Linked DNA regions of Homo sapiens: region 2 is linked to region 1. The links come from fine-mapping of genetic effects on gene expression. Tissue or cell type: subcutaneous fat. Region 1 holds a variant in brackets; the other region holds the start of a gene. All regions are shown on one strand. Distances are from middle to middle.

Region 1 (2,676 bases):
AGAAGGCAGTAGGGAGGGATGGTGTCCACCCTCAGGACCAAGGGCAGGCCCGTGCGGCTAGAACAGCGGGAAGGTGGGGGCACAGGCCACAGCAAGGATGCCCCACCCCACAGACACTCTCCTTTCACGTCTCTAGGAAAAACTTTTTATTACAAAATTTTTACAAGTAGGTGCTGGGCTGGCTGCCAGCCCGTGGGCTGTGACCCTCCCCAGTACAGACCCAGACTACACAGAAGGAGCCTCTAAGGGCTGATTCTCAGGACCAAGGCCCCACTCTCTGGAGACCCAGCCCTGAGGAGGAGGAGGAGGAGCACGGGGCCTGCAGTGATGCCCAGGCTGAAGCGGGCTGGAGGGGTTCAAGGAGCTGGATTGAGCGCTCTTTGCCCACCCAGGCTCCTGTGGGTACCAGAGTCTCAGTTCCTATTTCCTGGGCTGCCTTAGGGGCAGAGACGCTGAGGGTGGGGTGGAAGGATGGAGAAGACAGTGGTGGGGTGGAGCGGTGGGGGATAGAGGGTGGGTGGAGGAATGCAGGATACAGGGGCGGGGAGAGAGGTTGGGAGAGGGGTGGGTGGAGGGGTGGGGATACAGGGGTGGGAGGTACAGGGGTTGTGGGAGGGGTGGGAGTACGGGGTGGGGATACAGGGGTTGGGGGAGGGATGGGGCAGCTGCCCCCGTCGGCCCCTAAATGGTGCTTGGCAGCTTGGCGGAGTGCACCTGACGCAGCAGCAGGACAAGCGCAGCCAGGAGCGCGGAGGCGAAGAGCAGCAGGAGGACGACCCAGGAGCTGAAGTCTGTGCCCTTGCGCAGCCCCGGCGGGTCGGCGGGGATCAGGTTGGTCAGGTTCAGCATGTAGCCGAGCGCCCAGCCCACTGCAGTGTCCGCGGCCTGCGGGGAAGGGCGTGGCCTCAGCTCCCGAGAGGCCCCGCCCCGCAAGGTCGGCCCCGCCCCGCCCCGCCCCAGCCCACCTTCTTCTGGAAGATCACGCCGCCGAAGGCGCGCTCGTCGAAGCCGTAGCCGCGACTCAGCAGCTGCTGCACGAACATGGCCCCGGCGCAGTAGTCGGCCAGGCGGGCCCGTTGCCCTGGCACCCGAGCTTGCAGCTGGGACGCGGGCGGGACACCGTCAGGCAGGCGACCACCAGGAGGTCTCGGCCCCACGGGGAGAGGGGGCCGGCGGCGTGCTTCACCCCTCCCCAGACACACACGGGCCGTGCGAGGCCAGAGACCACCACACAGGCCCGGACACGAATGGCAAGACCGAGTCCGAGGGGCACCCCCGGCAGGGCACGCTTCCATCCCTCCCCAGCCAGCGCCCATGCCTGGAAGGCCAGTGAGGAGGGACAGCAGGCATGGCCACCAGGGAGCAGGAGGCAGCAACACCTTGGTGTGTGGCCAGGGGAACAGGACGAGCTCCAGGCCTGAGTCTGCCCGCTGGCT[C/G]GCCGCCTGTCCCCACCTCCCTCACCCCAGTCTGTCTGAGACTAGGCCCTGGGAGGACAAAATGGGGCCTCGCTCACCACCCCGGTCCTGGGACGACTCGTACGTTTCTCTTGGAGTCTCCGGTGGGCACACTCCCGGTGCCCAGACCCACTTCCATCTTCCCTTGTGTGGTACCATGGAGGGAACCAGTGGCAGAAGCCAGAAACCTGGGCACCGGCCTCCCCCTGCCCTCCAGATCTGGGATGAGGGTCGGGCCTGGCGAAGCTTCTCCAACCCGCCCGACTTGTTCACAGCCTACCGGCCACAGCCACGCCACCTCTGGAGTCAGCCTAATGCCTGCCATCGCCCCCACTGCAGCGGGTGCTCCGAGAGGCCTGTCCATGCAGGGCTGGGGAGGCATGCGGAGGCGGAGGCTGAGCCCTTCCGCACAGCCCTGAAGGAGTGGGAGCGGGGCTCACCTGAGCCCAGGTCTGGTTGCAGACATTCACTGCGGCTGCCTCCAGCTGCTGCAGGGTGGCCACGGGCAGCCCCATCGAAGTCCGCAAAAAGTCCACAGTGTAGAAGAAGGCAGAGAAGGCCTGTAGGGGGCGCAGTCACACTGTGACCGAACCCCAGCGGCTCAGAGCACCTGCTGCCACCCGCCTGTCCCTACTCACGACAAAGTTCCCAGCCACCCGCCTGCCCTTACCCACGACAAAGTTCCCAGCCACCCGCCTATCCCTACTCACGACAAAGTTCCCAGCCACCCGCCTGTCCCTACCCACGACAAAGTTCCCAGCCACCCGCCTGTCCCTACCCACGACAAAGTTCCCAGCCACCCGCCTGTCCCTACCCACGACAAAGTTCCCAGCCACCCGCCTGCCCCTACTCACCACAAAGTTCCCAGCCACTGGGGGCTGGAAGACCCCATTGAAAGAGCATCGGGAGAAGGGGCAGGAGGAGAAGCTGAAGAGCCCAGAAACCAGATCTCGGCAGAGGTGGGGGTCACTGCTCCCTGACAGGCTGACCCTGGCACTGCTGTTGAAGTTCTGGGGCCGCTGGGCCATGGTGCATGGTGACTGGTACACATCCCCGAGCAGCACTTGGGTGGAAAAGCCCCTCGGCCAGCAGGGGTGGAAGCCGTGGGTCTGGGGGAATCACCAGCGTGACAGGGTGGCACCACCACCGCTCCAGAGGACCAGCCTGACAAACCTCCCACAGGTCTCACTCTGGCAACTTCACTTTTGTGCTCAGGGGCAAT
Region 2 (2,676 bases), 38 kb after region 1:
AGAGCAGGAGGCCAGGGGAACAGAGTTAGACGAGCCACGTGCTAAGCAGGACGTCGCTGCCGGGGGAGCTCTCCAGACACGCAGAAATGCCACAGTCAGGACCGTGGGACGCAGCGGATTCGCCCAAGGGCAGGAGCAGCCTGGCCAGGAGAGAATGAAGGAGGGGCCGGGCGTGAGGTTCGGCTGGGGAGAACCCAGGCAGGGAGGGCCTCGGGCGGCCACGGACGCCGCTTTGCCATTTTGGGCGTTTCTGGGGAGGACAACGCGTGCAGGAAGCGCAGTCATCTCAAGCTGACCTCCAAGGTTACCGAGTTCGAGGGCTGGGAGCCGGGTCTGAAAGCCCCGACCCGCCTATGGCGCGGGGACTGTGGGTCCAGCCGGCCGATTGGCCGCCTCGCTCGGCGCCGGTCCAGGCGCAGCGCTCGGGCCCCGGGGACCGTGAGATGCGGCGCAGCCAGCTTAGCTCGGGGTAGCAGCCACCCCAGCCCGGGTGCCGCCCGGCCTGGTCCGCGACTTCGGGAGGGTCCGGTCCTTCCCCCGGCCCCCACGCCTGGGTGAGGCCCTGGGCTTCTTGCCGGTGACCACGCGGCCAGGGTGGGCACCAGCCCAGGACGGCGCCCAAGGGCAGCCCAGCTCCATCCCCGCGCCGCGGGTTCCGGAACCGAGGCGCGGGACGCTGGGACTCTCTGCCAACATGGCGGCCCCGCCCGGGCGCCTCCCCGGGTCCCTAGTGTCTGCGTCTCCCGTGAGGGCGTGGGCAAAGTCGGTGCAGCCAGACGACAGGAGGCGAGAGAAGCCCAGCTCCAGGCCCATGAGGCGAACCACGTGGGAGCCCCAGACAGCGACCACGCCCCAGGCGAACCAAGGCCCGCCCCGTTGCTACAGCTACGCTCGTAGCACACCTGGGCAGGCGCTGCCGGACGCATGCGCAATGAACCTGAGGGCAGGGCGGAGTCGCAGCAGTTGTCTGACGCAGTCGCCGTAGGACGCAGCCCCGTACGCTGGAGCGCAGCGGAGACAGGCGCGGGCGCACTGGCCGCATAGAGACGCAGCGCACGCGCAGTCGCGTATCCGTGTGATGGGCGGGCTGTTGACGGCGCTGCGATGGCTGCCTGCGAGGGCAGGAGAAGCGGAGCTCTCGGTTCCTCTCAGTCGGACTTCCTGACGCCGCCAGTGGGCGGGGCCCCTTGGGCCGTCGCCACCACTGTAGTCATGTACCCACCGCCGCCGCCGCCGCCTCATCGGGACTTCATCTCGGTGACGCTGAGCTTTGGCGAGAACTATGACAACAGCAAGAGTTGGCGGCGGCGCTCGTGCTGGAGGGTGAGGGTCGCGCCGGGCTGACTGGGGCCCGGGGCTGCCGTGCCCGCCGCCCTCCCAGACTGCGGCTCCGAGCGGGACCTGGGCGGGCGGACTCGACTCCCCAGGCGCCGCCCTCTCCACCCCTTCCCCGCAAAAAGGGGCAAATGTGCGTTCCTGGTTGGGGCAGCCGTGGGCGGCTCGCCTGCAGCGGTCTCAGCGGCCCAAATTCTGCGGGGCGGTGGTGGGAAGAGGGCTCAGAGCCCCAGCAGGTTTTCTGGGCTTCGTTCGCTTTTCTGCAAGGTCCTGGCCCAGGCGCCTGCCCCTCTTGGAGCGGAAACCGGAGGTTCCCCGTGGTGTATGCTCCCCTCGGTACAGTGAGAAATGAGCCCCTCTTGATTGGCTCCTGGTCTGTTCGTGGTGGTCTCAGGCCGAAGGGCATTGATAACCACATGCGGACTGTGCATCGCCTGGGCGGTGCCTGGGCTACATCTGTGGGAGTCGCAGGAGTCTTTCTCCACTGTTGATGAAATGTGACAGAAATGTTTCTGCTTTTTTCTTATCCTCGTCTCATCTGCACCACTGTATTAACGACATCTGTAGTATTGTCCCAGCAATGTTCCTACTCCCTGCTGAGAGGGAACTTCTCCCCATTCAAAATAAATAGAGCTGGCCGGGCACGGTGGCTCATCCCGCGTTCCACCCACTACACTCCAGCCTAGGTGTAACAGAATGAGACCCTGTTTCCAAAAAAAAAAAGAAATAGAGCTGAACACTGGATCTTCCAGAAGAATTCCTTATTGTCCTCACAGTTTGTGACAGTTGAGACGTTCCGTGTGATATATTCAGTAAGAAATGTCATTCTCTGTACCTCCCTTAGAAATGGAAGCAACTGTCGAGATTGCAGCGGAATATGATTCTCTTCCTCCTTGCCTTTCTGCTTTTCTGTGGACTCCTCTTCTACATCAACTTGGCTGACCATTGGAAAGGTATCAGAAACACGTGTACTTGAAAACGATATCTGTGTTGAGGGTTGATTGGGCAGAAGCAATCTTGCATTCTACCTTAAACAGCTCCAGGAGGCATATATGGCAACGAATTGGCAAGAAATCAAGATAAAGAGAAAGGTAGAGCTGTATGTAACCACCTGGCTAGAACACAGATGTTAATTTGATGCTGTCTGACTACTTTCTAGGTCTCTGGTGTAAGTACTGATATGTCCAGCCTCCCTTATAGAGTAAGTCAGCTGGTGGGCTTGAACACTCAGCCTAAATAACCACACAAATTTCGTAGCACTCATTAGCGTGTGTTTGGAAAAGACCAGGCAGAGTTCTGGTGAGGATGTGGAGAATCTCTTCTCACTTGGTCTAAGATGCT

The links. PIP is the estimated chance that this variant, and not a neighbour inherited with it, causes the effect.
Region 2: MAN1B1 starts here. The variant in region 1 is fine-mapped to the expression of MAN1B1 in subcutaneous fat (GTEx, PIP 0.99).

The regions. Positions count from the first base shown.
Region 1 is chr9:137,047,976-137,050,651 of GRCh38, forward strand. It overlaps ENTPD2 (ectonucleoside triphosphate diphosphohydrolase 2), which reads right to left. Exons shown (of 9, transcript NM_203468.3): 6 at 2,309-2,563; 7 at 1,895-2,014; 8 at 966-1,100; 9 at 132-885. The coding sequence ends at 682. Among named protein-coding and RNA genes, the nearest start is that of NPDC1, 3.1 kb to the left of the region's middle. RefSeq lists enhancers at 669-1,197, 1,198-1,726 and a silencer at 2,064-2,123. The variant C/G (reference allele first, on the strand shown) is at 1,437.
Region 2 is chr9:137,085,896-137,088,571 of GRCh38, forward strand. MAN1B1 (mannosidase alpha class 1B member 1) reads left to right here and starts at 1,090. Exons shown (of 13, transcript NM_016219.5): 1 at 1,090-1,323; 2 at 2,180-2,288. The coding sequence starts at 1,105. MAN1B1-DT (MAN1B1 divergent transcript) reads right to left here and starts at 922. Exons shown (of 1, transcript NR_027447.1): 1 at 1-922. RefSeq lists silencers at 444-673, 1,224-1,453 and an enhancer at 1,014-1,243.